Linked DNA regions of Homo sapiens: region 1 is linked to region 2. Evidence: fine-mapped expression QTL. A gene starts in region 2. The other region holds a variant in brackets. All regions are shown on one strand. Distances are from middle to middle.

Region 1 (5,375 bases), 62 kb before region 2:
TTTCAAAGACAATTGAAATTTTCCAAAATATTAAAATTAACTGAATTTGATATTTGTTCTTGGCATCTATTATAGGGCAAAATCTCTTTCAGCAGGTCTAAAGCATAAGTCCTTTACAATTCTGGGACTTAAAAAAACACTATTTCCCTACCACAAATACAAAGTTGGAAATGTTTTAAAATCAGATATCTAGATGTTTTTACCATATAAATTTAAACAGTTAACAATTTGAAAACCTGTCTTTGACTGAGGGAATTAATTTTTTATTTTTATTTTTTAGTGTTTAATACCATTGGGTTCTTTGGGTTAATGCAGACATAATAAATGATTAAGAACAGAAAAGAAACATTTTAAATCTTGGGCCTGCTTTACCAGGTGGTGCCAATTTCTGTAGCACATCAGATATGCTTTCAGGCAACAATAAAAAATTATCAGTTTTGCAATTTCCTAGCAGTTCCAAACTAAGCCTAAATGTCAAGATAGATTAAGATTGGAGAATCTCTCCATATTTGGATAAGTTGACAGTCAATATGTAACTCATTACTTTAAAGTACACACCAATTACATGTGTGTATAATCAGCTTTTTAAACAAACACAGCCTCTACCCTTTCCTCTGATTGTAGGAATTTCTGTTTGTGTTAGATCTTGGCACAGCTAGCATTGGTTTTTGTCAGCTCATAAGTAACCTTTACGTTGAAAAGTTTATACTACTCCTCTGTGGACTCTCTCTAATCAAAAAATAAAATAAAGAAAGAAAGAAAACAAAACAAAACTTCTTAAAATGTCATATGGCCAATCAAATCATCAACCAAACACTTACAATGGTTTCCCTAATAAATTATAGCCAGATGGTTCAATTCACTACTTAACAGGACCATAAACATATCAGCATTATTCAAATACCTTGCAAAGAAAATCAGACAATATACAGTTTATGTTTAGTTCACAGGTTTCTAGTTTGTTTCACTACTCTGTGTTAACACAAAAGCAAAAGACAATAATAAAAGAAACATGTTTGTTTTGCAGAAATAAAATGCTAGATTAAGAGAACTAAGTAGTTCCTTCCTTCCTTCCTTCCTTCCTTCCTCCCTTTCCCCTTCCTTCTTTTTATCAAGTTCTTTCTCCTTTGGCCCTCACTGACTAATATTTATTTGAACTATGAATCAATAATGACATGTAGCACAAGCTGCCTACAGTGCCCAAACACAAAGAAATGGAGTTAACAGTTAGGAGAAGTTTTGCTTTAAAATTCCCTAAAAAGTGTCAAAACAGCTTAGATGGCAAGTATGGGACTGATAGGTTAGTTTATGGAGACACTTTGCTGTCAGTACTAAATGAAATATGATAATACAATTTGTATAAAGAGGTGACTTCCCAATGCAGGGAAAAGGGGAGTGAAAGACTTCCATTGGCCCACATCCCCACCATGGAATTGTGCAATCCTGGCCACAGGAGAGCCTCTCAACCCTCATAACGCCTGAAACTAACACAGGAAGATGCCAAGAGACTGAGGTAGACCTGCTCCGAGGAGGGAGGGTGTGCTGGGTCCTGCACCCTTTCTGAGACCTAAGTGGCTACAACATTGTGCCATTTTCAAACCTAGCCTTTGGCAGACTGGCCGTCCTGGGTGGGACCCAGCAGTGGCAGATCTGAGGTGTTATGGCTGTCACTGCTTAAACTAAGGAGAGGGCTGGAAGCTTTCCCACAGCTGGGAATAACAAGCAAATGAGGCATGAGCCGTAGCTGCTGGTGCTGGGAAGCAAAAGCCACTGGAACACAGACTGGGACACCACTGAGGTACAAGTTGCTGCTGGAATTTGGTCATCGGCTGGGTGGGGACTCCTGCAGACAGGGTAAGGACATGAGCTAGACTCAGGCTACTCTGCCACGGTTGAGGGGCAAGCCCCACCAGAACTGGAGCATGAGAGGAATGTGCATTTTTCATCACAAGCCCACCCAGCCCAGCTTTGCCTCTCTCTCCAAGACAGCACACAATGAGGTCCTGGGGATTGCCCAACCCAATCCACCATTGTGGGCACCTAAGTACTCCTCCTGGTGCCTTGAGGTTGGGCATAAATTCCTGGCTGCTACCACCTCAGCTGGCACCCACTTGCAAGTGCCACCTTAGGCCAGGAGACTGACCCACTCAGCCCATTTTAGTCACCACCACCATTAAGGCACACAGATTGAGAACCACGGAATCATCCTACCACTGCTACTGCCATCAACCACACCACGCCAAGTGCCCAGGAGCCTGAAAACACGTCCAACTGCCTGGCCACTACTGCCACTACCCATGTCTGAGCAAGCCACCTGGAGGCCCAAGTATCAACTTGCCAGTAACTTCCAACACAAGTGCTAGTGCACTCTGCTCTGGCACAAAGATAGGCATGCTCAGCCCACCTCTGCCAGCACTGGGGCTGAAGACTGGCCCACGTGTCCTCTCAATCCCCAGGACAACTTCACTATGGCTTTCATTAATAACCACACTCTAATCCATGAAGGAAATCACAGATGCTACTAACACTGTTTACAGCCAAAGAAATCATATGGAGACTACACTACTGGATGCACCCAGAATCAAAGCCAAAGTGCTCTACCCAACTGATACCAGAGATACATCTTCAGGAAAAAGT[C/G]CTCCCCTATAAAAGCAAATTCAAAAATAGAAGGTGACTATTATGCCAGATGCACAGATATCAACATAAGGACACAGAAAGCAGGAAAAGCAAGGAAATATGACTCCTTCAAAGGAACACAATAATTTTTCAGCATTAGATCTTAATCAGAAAGAACTTACATAACATCCCAGATAAATAATTCAAAATAATGATTTTAAAGAAACTCAGTAAAATACAAGAAAATTCTGAAAAACAATAGAAAGAAATTAGAAAATCAATTCAGAATATAAATGAGAAATTTACACAGAAATAGACATTTTTAAATGAACCAAATAGAAATTCTGGAACTGAAGAATTCATTGAAGGAAATAAAAAAAACACATTTGAAAGCATCAACAATAGATTAGATCAGGTAGAATAAAGAATCTCAGAACTTGAAGACAGATCTTTTTAAATACTCCAATCAGACAATTAAAAAAAAAAAGAGAATACAAAAGAATTAACAAAGCATTCATGACATTTGGGACAACGTAAGACAAATATACAAATTATTGGGATCCGGCTGGGCGCGGTGGCTCAGGCCTGTAATCCCAGCACTTTGAGAAGCTGAGGGGGTGGATCACCTGAGGTCAGGAGTTCATGACCAGCCTGGCCAACATGGTGAAACCCTGTCTCTACTAAAAATACAAAAATTATCCAGGAGTGGTGGCACACACCTGTAGTTCCAGCTACTGGGGAGGCTGAGGCATGAAAATAGCTTGAACCCAGTAGGCAGAGGTCACAGTGAGCTGAGAATGTGCCACTGCACTCCAGTCTGGGCGATAGAGTGAGACTCCATCTCAAAAACAAAGATTAATAACAAATTATTTGGATCCCTGAGGGTGAAGAAACAAACAAAAGGTTTAAAAACCTATATAATGAAATAATAGATAAAACTGTCCAAGTCGAGCAACAGATTTAGATATTCAGAAGCAGGAGGCTTAGCGATCCCCAGGAAGATAAGTGCAAAAAGGTCTTCTCCGTGGCACATTATGTTCAGACAATCTAACATCAAACATAAAGAGTGAATCCTAAAAACAGGAAGATAAAGACATCTAGTCACCTATAACGGAAACCTCATCAGAATAACAGTGGATTTTTCAATCAAAAGAGAATAGGATGACATATTCAAGTGCTGAAAGAAAAATACTGCCAGTCAAGAATACTATATTCATCAAATTATCCTTTATAAATGAAGGAGAACTAAAGTCATTCCCAGACAAGCAAATGCTGTGGAAATGTGTTTCCACTAGAATGGCCCTACAAGATATGCTGAAGGGAGTTGTAAACTAGAAAGTGAAACAACATTTACCCTAATGAAAACACATGAAAGTATAAAACTCACCAGTAAAGTAATTCACACAAAGGAGGAAGAGAAAAGACTCAAATGGTACCAGTACAGATATCCACCAAACCATGACGATAATCAATAAGAGAAAAAAAAGAAACAAATAACATATAAAACAGCCAGAAAACAATTAGCAATATGATGGAAACAAAGCCTAAGATATCAATAATAACCTTGAACATAAATGAATTAAATTATCTACTTAAAAGATTAAAAAAAGGCTGAATGGATTAAAAAGCATGATCCAATTTTGTGCTGCTTACAAGAAACTCACTTCATCAGTAAAGACACATAAAGACTGAAAATAAAGAGATGGAAAAAGATATTCCACACAAGTGGAAACCAAAAGCAAGTAGAAATAGCTAAGTTTACGAGGGCTTGCCTGTCGTGTACATGTCTCTGTGACTCCCAGGAGGGGAAGGGCTGCTCAGTTCAAGGTGTTCTGTTTGGTAGAGCATGTGTCCTCTGACAACCATGTCTCTGGACTTTTCAGACACTCTTGGGGATGGCACTCCACACACAATGAAGATGCAGGGGCCGGGGAACCCCAGCACTCGGTACCCTTTGTCCAAGATTAAAATCGGCCTGTGGGATGTAGTGAGAAGGCAGGTTGCATGGGTGTAACTGATGTATCTTTTCCTTAACGTTATTATAATAATGGGTAATTTCTCAATAAAGCATTCTTTTTGGAGAAAAAAAGAAATAGCTAAGTTTATATGAGATAAAACAGACTTTAAAGGTAGAACAGTTAAAAAAAAAGACAAAGAAGGTCATTATATAATGAAAAAGAGATTAATCCAGCAATAAGATATAACAATTCTAAATATATATGTTCTTAACACTGGAACACCCAAATTTGCAAAGCAAATATTACTAGATCTAAAGAGAGAGATAGAGTGAAATAAAATAATCATGGAAGACTTCAATATCCCATTCTCAACAATAGACAGAGTATGTAGAAAAAAAATCAACAAAGACACATTGGATTTAAACTGTACTTTAGACCAAATGAACCTAACAGACATTTACAGAACATTTTACCTAACAACTGCAGAATATACATTCTTTCCATCAGCACATGGAAACTTCTCCACAATAGACTATATTCTAGGCCACAAAACAAGTCTCAACAAATTTTTAAAACTCAAAATTAAATCAAGTGTTTTCTCAGACCACAAGAGACTAAAACTAGAAATAAATACCAAGAGGACCTTTGGAAACTATACAAATACATGGAAATTCAACAACATGTTCCTGAACGGCTATTGGGTCAGTGAAGAAATTCAGATGAAAATCAAACATGTTTTGAAACAAATGAAAGTGAAAATACAACATAGCAAACCTTGTTGGATAAAGGAAAAGTAATGTT
Region 2 (5,375 bases):
GTAATGGTATTGCTGGGTCAAATGATATTTCTGGTTCTAGGTCTTTGAGTAATTGTCACACTGTCTTCCACAGTAGTTGAACTAATTTACATTCCCATCAATGTGTGAAAACGTTCCTATTTGTCTGCAGCCTCTCTAGCATCTGTTGTTTCTTGACTTTTTATAACAGCCATTCTGACTTGCGTGAGATGGTATTTCATTGGCTTTGATTTGCATCTCTCTAATGATCTATGATGTTGAGCTTTTTTCATATGTTTGTTGGCCACATAAATGTCTTCCTTTGAGAAGTGTCTGTTCATGTCCTTTGTCCGCTTTTTAATGGGATTGTCTTTTCTTGTAAATTTAAAACAGAAATTTTTACAGGTGACAAAACAACCTGGAACGTTTGTTACCTGTCCAAAGGTAAATTGTGGACCCAGGGTCAAATTCCAGAGGTCCTGTACTTTGCAGTTCTCTGTCTTAGAAGTGCTGCTGTTGCCCATGAAGTAGTGCAAATTAGGAAAAGAAGACACTTTGGGCTACACAATTAAAAAGGTTTTTTCCTCTGACTTAGGGAACAGGCTTGCCAAGCAGAGAGCAGGCTGGACTTTAGACCTCAAGGCCCCATCCTCCCGCATCCTGTAGGAAACCATCTGTGGCAACCCAGGAGCTCCCCCTTTCTCCATCTCTGTCCCTCTCTTTCACTCCCCACCCCCGCATCCTTCCTTCTCTTCTCCCACTCTCTACTTTATTGGCCTAGACTCCTTTTCCTATGAGTCTTACATGTTCCAACGAGGCTGTCTGGGCGGTCTGGCTTTCAGGAGGCGATTTATTGTTGTGCTACTATCCCTATGAAATTTTGCTTCGCTGGGGCTCAAGGAGATTAAAGACCCCCAAGGCCCACTCAGCACCACCCTGCTGCGGTCCTCTTCCTCGTTGGTGAGGTGTTCGTGCCCACTTTGGGGGCCCATCTGCACCTGTCGCCCTCCCTGCCTTCCGGGCTGCTGCTGCTCGGAGCGTTCAACCACAAGGCTGAAAGCACAGCCTGTTACGGAGTTGTCTTCACAACGCGATAACGTGAACATTTCACATGTCTGAGAGATAACTTTAGTATTTTGTCCAAATTTTTGAAATAATGGAGTTTGGGAAGTATTTTATCTTAGACTCTTAGCATTCCTAGGCTGATCCACTGCCTGGTGAACTCGTGGTTTCCCCGTTGCCTCGGTTACCGTAAAAATAGCAATGATTCTGGACACTTGGCTGGGCTTCTTCCAAATCCACTGAGCCGCGCCTGGGGCCCCAGCCTGCCCCACTGAGAGTCCTAGCTCGGTCCTCGGGCCCGGCCACGCCCGCTGCCGGCCAGCGACCGAGTCGGACCCAATCCGAGGCCCTGCGTTCTTGCCACCCAACACGTAGGCTGATCCTGGCGTGCGCTGCGTGTTCTTTCCTCTTATGTCCTATTCCTTTCTGTTAATAAGAATATGAGCTCAGGTAGACAAAATTAAACAGTCAAGTTTCCAAACACGATGAGGTCACTTTAAGAATTCAAAGGATGTGAGGCACCTGCCCGGGGGAGGTGGGGGGACGTCCCCTCTGCTCCCCCTCCCCGGAAATGCCTGCGTCCAGCAGTGACCTCGGGGATCTGGGGCTGAGCGAGTGGGGGTTCAGAGCCTGCTCGCCCCAGCGTCCTCCAGGCGGTTGGCAGCGCCGCCGGAAGGTGAGGGGGGGCGGGGACGGCACCGGGCAGGAGGTGAGGGCCGGGACCCCGGACGCGAGGTGAGGGCGGGCGCTGGCACCCGGAGAGCGGCCAGGGAGGCGGGCCCGGGCGGGAGTGAGGAGGCGGGGACGGGCGGGGACGAGCGGGGATGCGGGGACGCGGCCAGGGCCGGGGCACCGGGCGGGGGCGGGGGCGGTGCCAGTCGGTGTGGGCGATGAGGTCGGGAGGGGCGGGAACTGGGGAGTTTCGCCAATCGGTGCAGACTCCGGTTCTCCCCAACCCCGGGCCTGGGCAGCTGGGCACTGGGGCGCCGTTCCCCACCCGGCGCGGACTTCGGAACCGGCCCTGGGACTGACTGGCTCTACCACTCGAGCGCGTCTCCGCTGGACCCGGAACCCCGGTCGGTCCATTCCCCGCGAAGATGCGCGCCCTGGCGGCCCTGAGCGCGCCCCCGAACGAGCGGCTCCTTCCCCGGGACCCCGCGGCTACCCGGGACCCCGACGCCGCGCGGCCGGCGCGCAGGAGCGCAGTGGAGAGGCTGGCGGCGGATCGCGCCAAGTATGTGCGGGGTCGGCCGGGGACTGGCCGGGGCGTCGCTTCCGAGGGCAGCGGCCCGGGGGCGATCAAGTGCCCGGGGAACGACCCTGGGCCCCCGGCCCGCGCCCCGGCCCCGGTGGCGCGCAGGGCTATTGCGCGGAAGCCGTTGAGACCGGACTCGCTGATCATCTACCGGCAGAAATGCGAATTCGTGCGAGGATCGGGCGCCGACGGCCCCAGGGCAAGCCTGGTGAAGAAGCTCTTCCAGGGGCCGGGTAAGGACAAGGCGCCGGTGCCCCGGACGGGAGACGAGGGCAAGGCCGGGAACCCGGAGACGGTCCCGACCACTCCTGGCCCCGCGGCGGACCCCGCAATCCCCGAGACCCCAGCCCCAGCCGCGCGGTCCGCGGCGCCCTCCAGTGTCCCGGCCGCGCCCCCTGGGCCAGAGCCGCGGGTGGTGAGGCGTCGGGGGCTGCAGCGCTCACAGTCGGACCTCAGCTCCCGCTATTCCGCTGCCTTGGCCGAGTCTGACACCTTCTTCCAGTACTGCGGCCTGGACCCCGAGGTGGTGGAGGCCCTGGGGAGGGAGAACTTCACCGCGGGGTCGGACTGTGTGACCCTCAAGGTGCGCAGCGTGAGCGTCGCCACCTCCGGCAGCGGCTTCTCCCGGCACAGCGGCGGCGACGACGAGGGGCTGCAGGAGGAGGAGCTGATAGAGCAGGTGCCCAGCACCACTTCGGTCATCGAGAGGAACGCCCGCATCATCAAGTGGCTGTACACCTGTAAGAAGGCCAAGGAGACCCCCAGCCAGGAGCAGAGCCGGACCCGAGGTGTGTGCCCAGAAGGCTGGGGGCGGGGCTGGCCGTGTGCGGGGCTGTGAATCTTGGTGAGTGTGACCGAGCTGGGCGATGGCCAGTTACAGCTGCTTAGAATTGAGTGCGATTTTGAGCTACAGTGTGAAAGGGACCCAAGAGACTGACGCAGAGGCTTGTGAGTTGAGCCCCCGCTGCTGAAGAGCAGAAGGTACCAATCCAGGCACCTGCTGGTCCAGGCCCTTAGGAGTCTGCTGCGTCTGGCTGCCTGGAAAGGCAATTCTGCAAATTAATATGTCCCATTTGGCTTATTATTGTGAAAACAGGAGAAATCCAAAATGCTGCCAGAAAGCAGTTTTACACCCCTAGTATTCTTTCCTGAGCTGAAAACAGCTTGAGAGCCCTAGTTCCTGAGTTCATTGACCTGTGCTGTGGGCGGTCCTGATGTTTGATTGGAGCTGACCAGTCCACCTGCAGCCCTAGGTAGGCGCTGCTGTGTTACTGGAACAGAAAGGAAGACTCCCTGCACTTTCCTGGAGGCCTGTGCTGAAGTGGTGAGAACTTCTCCACAGGATCTTGTAGCACTTTGGCATTCACTTAGCAACAAAGATCTTTATTTGGCTAAATTTTATTTAAATTGTTTTGAGAGCTTCAGGTTTTTAAACTGGGGAAATTGGACTAGATTGTAACTAGAGTCTATAGTTTATTTGCCTCTGATGACACTACAGGAAGTAACCTCCCTTTGGACAACCAGTAGTGCCGGATTGACCTCGAGCTCTTTTTGCTTTTCACTGGGGAACTGAGGAGTGCTGGTCTTCACTGTTACCTGCTCTTCCCTATGGGCGTCTTGGAAAGTAGTGAAGAGAAAGAACCTTTTCAGGGCTGTCTTTGAGAACGAACAATTTAAACTTTGCGACATCTTTTTTTTCCTCTTACCCTTCAATGACAACTTGCTATAAGTAAATTTTAAAAATCATGAGATGAAATTATTTTCTGCCATTGTGATAAACTAAGTGAAGATGCATGGCAGCCTGTAGAGTTTGGGGGAGGCTGCCCAAGAGATGTTTGCACAGGGCTCACCTATGTTTGACAGCTAAAAATATCTCCAATAATTTCTCTGGCTATGACTTTAGTACAGACATGAAAATTAATGAGAAGAAGATAATTCATTCTTTTTCTTGAACTCAGAAGGCTCAGGACTTAAGTTCTTCCTTATAATTTATAGAAGATTTGTGTTTTCCACTAGCCTAAGTTCCCAACAAATATATATAGGCAAAGTTCTAAAAAGCAAACAAACATTAATTTGTAGTTTTCACAAATTGTCTTTTGGATCTGAGATGAATGAATGCTGGCAAGGGTATTTCCATGATGGCACCATGTGTAGGGCAGGAGCTTTGGAGAGTGGCCAGGTCCGTGGAGGGACAGTGTCTGGTGGATAGAGCACTAAACCAGAATTAAGGGCCTGTCTTATGTTAGCAAATGATTCCTGCACTATAGACCAGGCGTCCTTTGTCCATAAAAAGAAGGGAGATAGGCGGATGGTTTTCAACCTCTACATTTTCTAGTCTGTGTAGTAATAATCTGTGTTGCATGACTGAAACCCAGAAATGGAAAACAAACAAAAAAAAGTTGTCTATTGAAGTACGTGAGAAGTAAATTTATGAATAAGCTCCCTCCAGGTAGCCATAGCATGTGCAGGCAGTAGGTAGACTTGGTGGTATAAATAGTGGGGAGGTAATAATGTGGCATACAAATGAAACCAAAGTAAAACCTGACAACATAAAAATAAAAGCAGCCTGCTCTGATCCCTCCAGACCCAGGCTGGTTCCCATCTCGAATTAGCCAATGTCAAAAGAGTGACCTGAATGAGAATTTAGTTGACTTCATAGACTAAATCCTAAAGACCTTTTAGGCTTGGACCTATGAAAAATATAAGAAGTTTAGTTAGCTTGTGAGAACTTTCACTTTTATGACAAAGAGAAATAGTTGAAGGAAGAGGGAAAGTGAGAGCAGGTTTGGGAAGGCACTAAGGATGGAGGCAGGAAAAAGGCTCATGGGCTTCTTCCTCCCCTCATGTCTCCCTCCACCTGAATCCCGTTTGTTCCAGACTGGAGACAATGGCAACTGTCTTCTGAGAAGTTTCACATTATTTCTCAGAGCAGGGGTACAGTCCCACAGAAGCTACCCCAGTTTTTATATGGAATTGGCAGTCACCAGCACTATAAAGATTTTCTTTACTAATGTACTTCCCTAGACCCAAAACAGCACAGGCCTCTTTGAAACTGCAATGCAGAGACTTACTGCCCGGCTACCAGGGGTGGGGTGTATGA

The links. PIP is the estimated chance that this variant, and not a neighbour inherited with it, causes the effect.
Region 1: its variant is fine-mapped to the expression of FAM110C in whole blood (INTERVAL, PIP 0.98).

What each region holds. Positions count from the first base shown.
Region 1 is chr2:105,405-110,779 of GRCh38, reverse strand. No RefSeq gene overlaps it. Among named protein-coding and RNA genes, the nearest start is that of FAM110C, 62 kb to the right of the region's middle. The variant C/G (reference allele first, on the strand shown) is at 2,638.
Region 2 is chr2:43,128-48,502 of GRCh38, reverse strand. It overlaps FAM110C (family with sequence similarity 110 member C), which reads left to right and starts at 1,998. Exons shown (of 2, transcript NM_001077710.3): 1 at 1,998-3,063. The coding sequence starts at 2,118.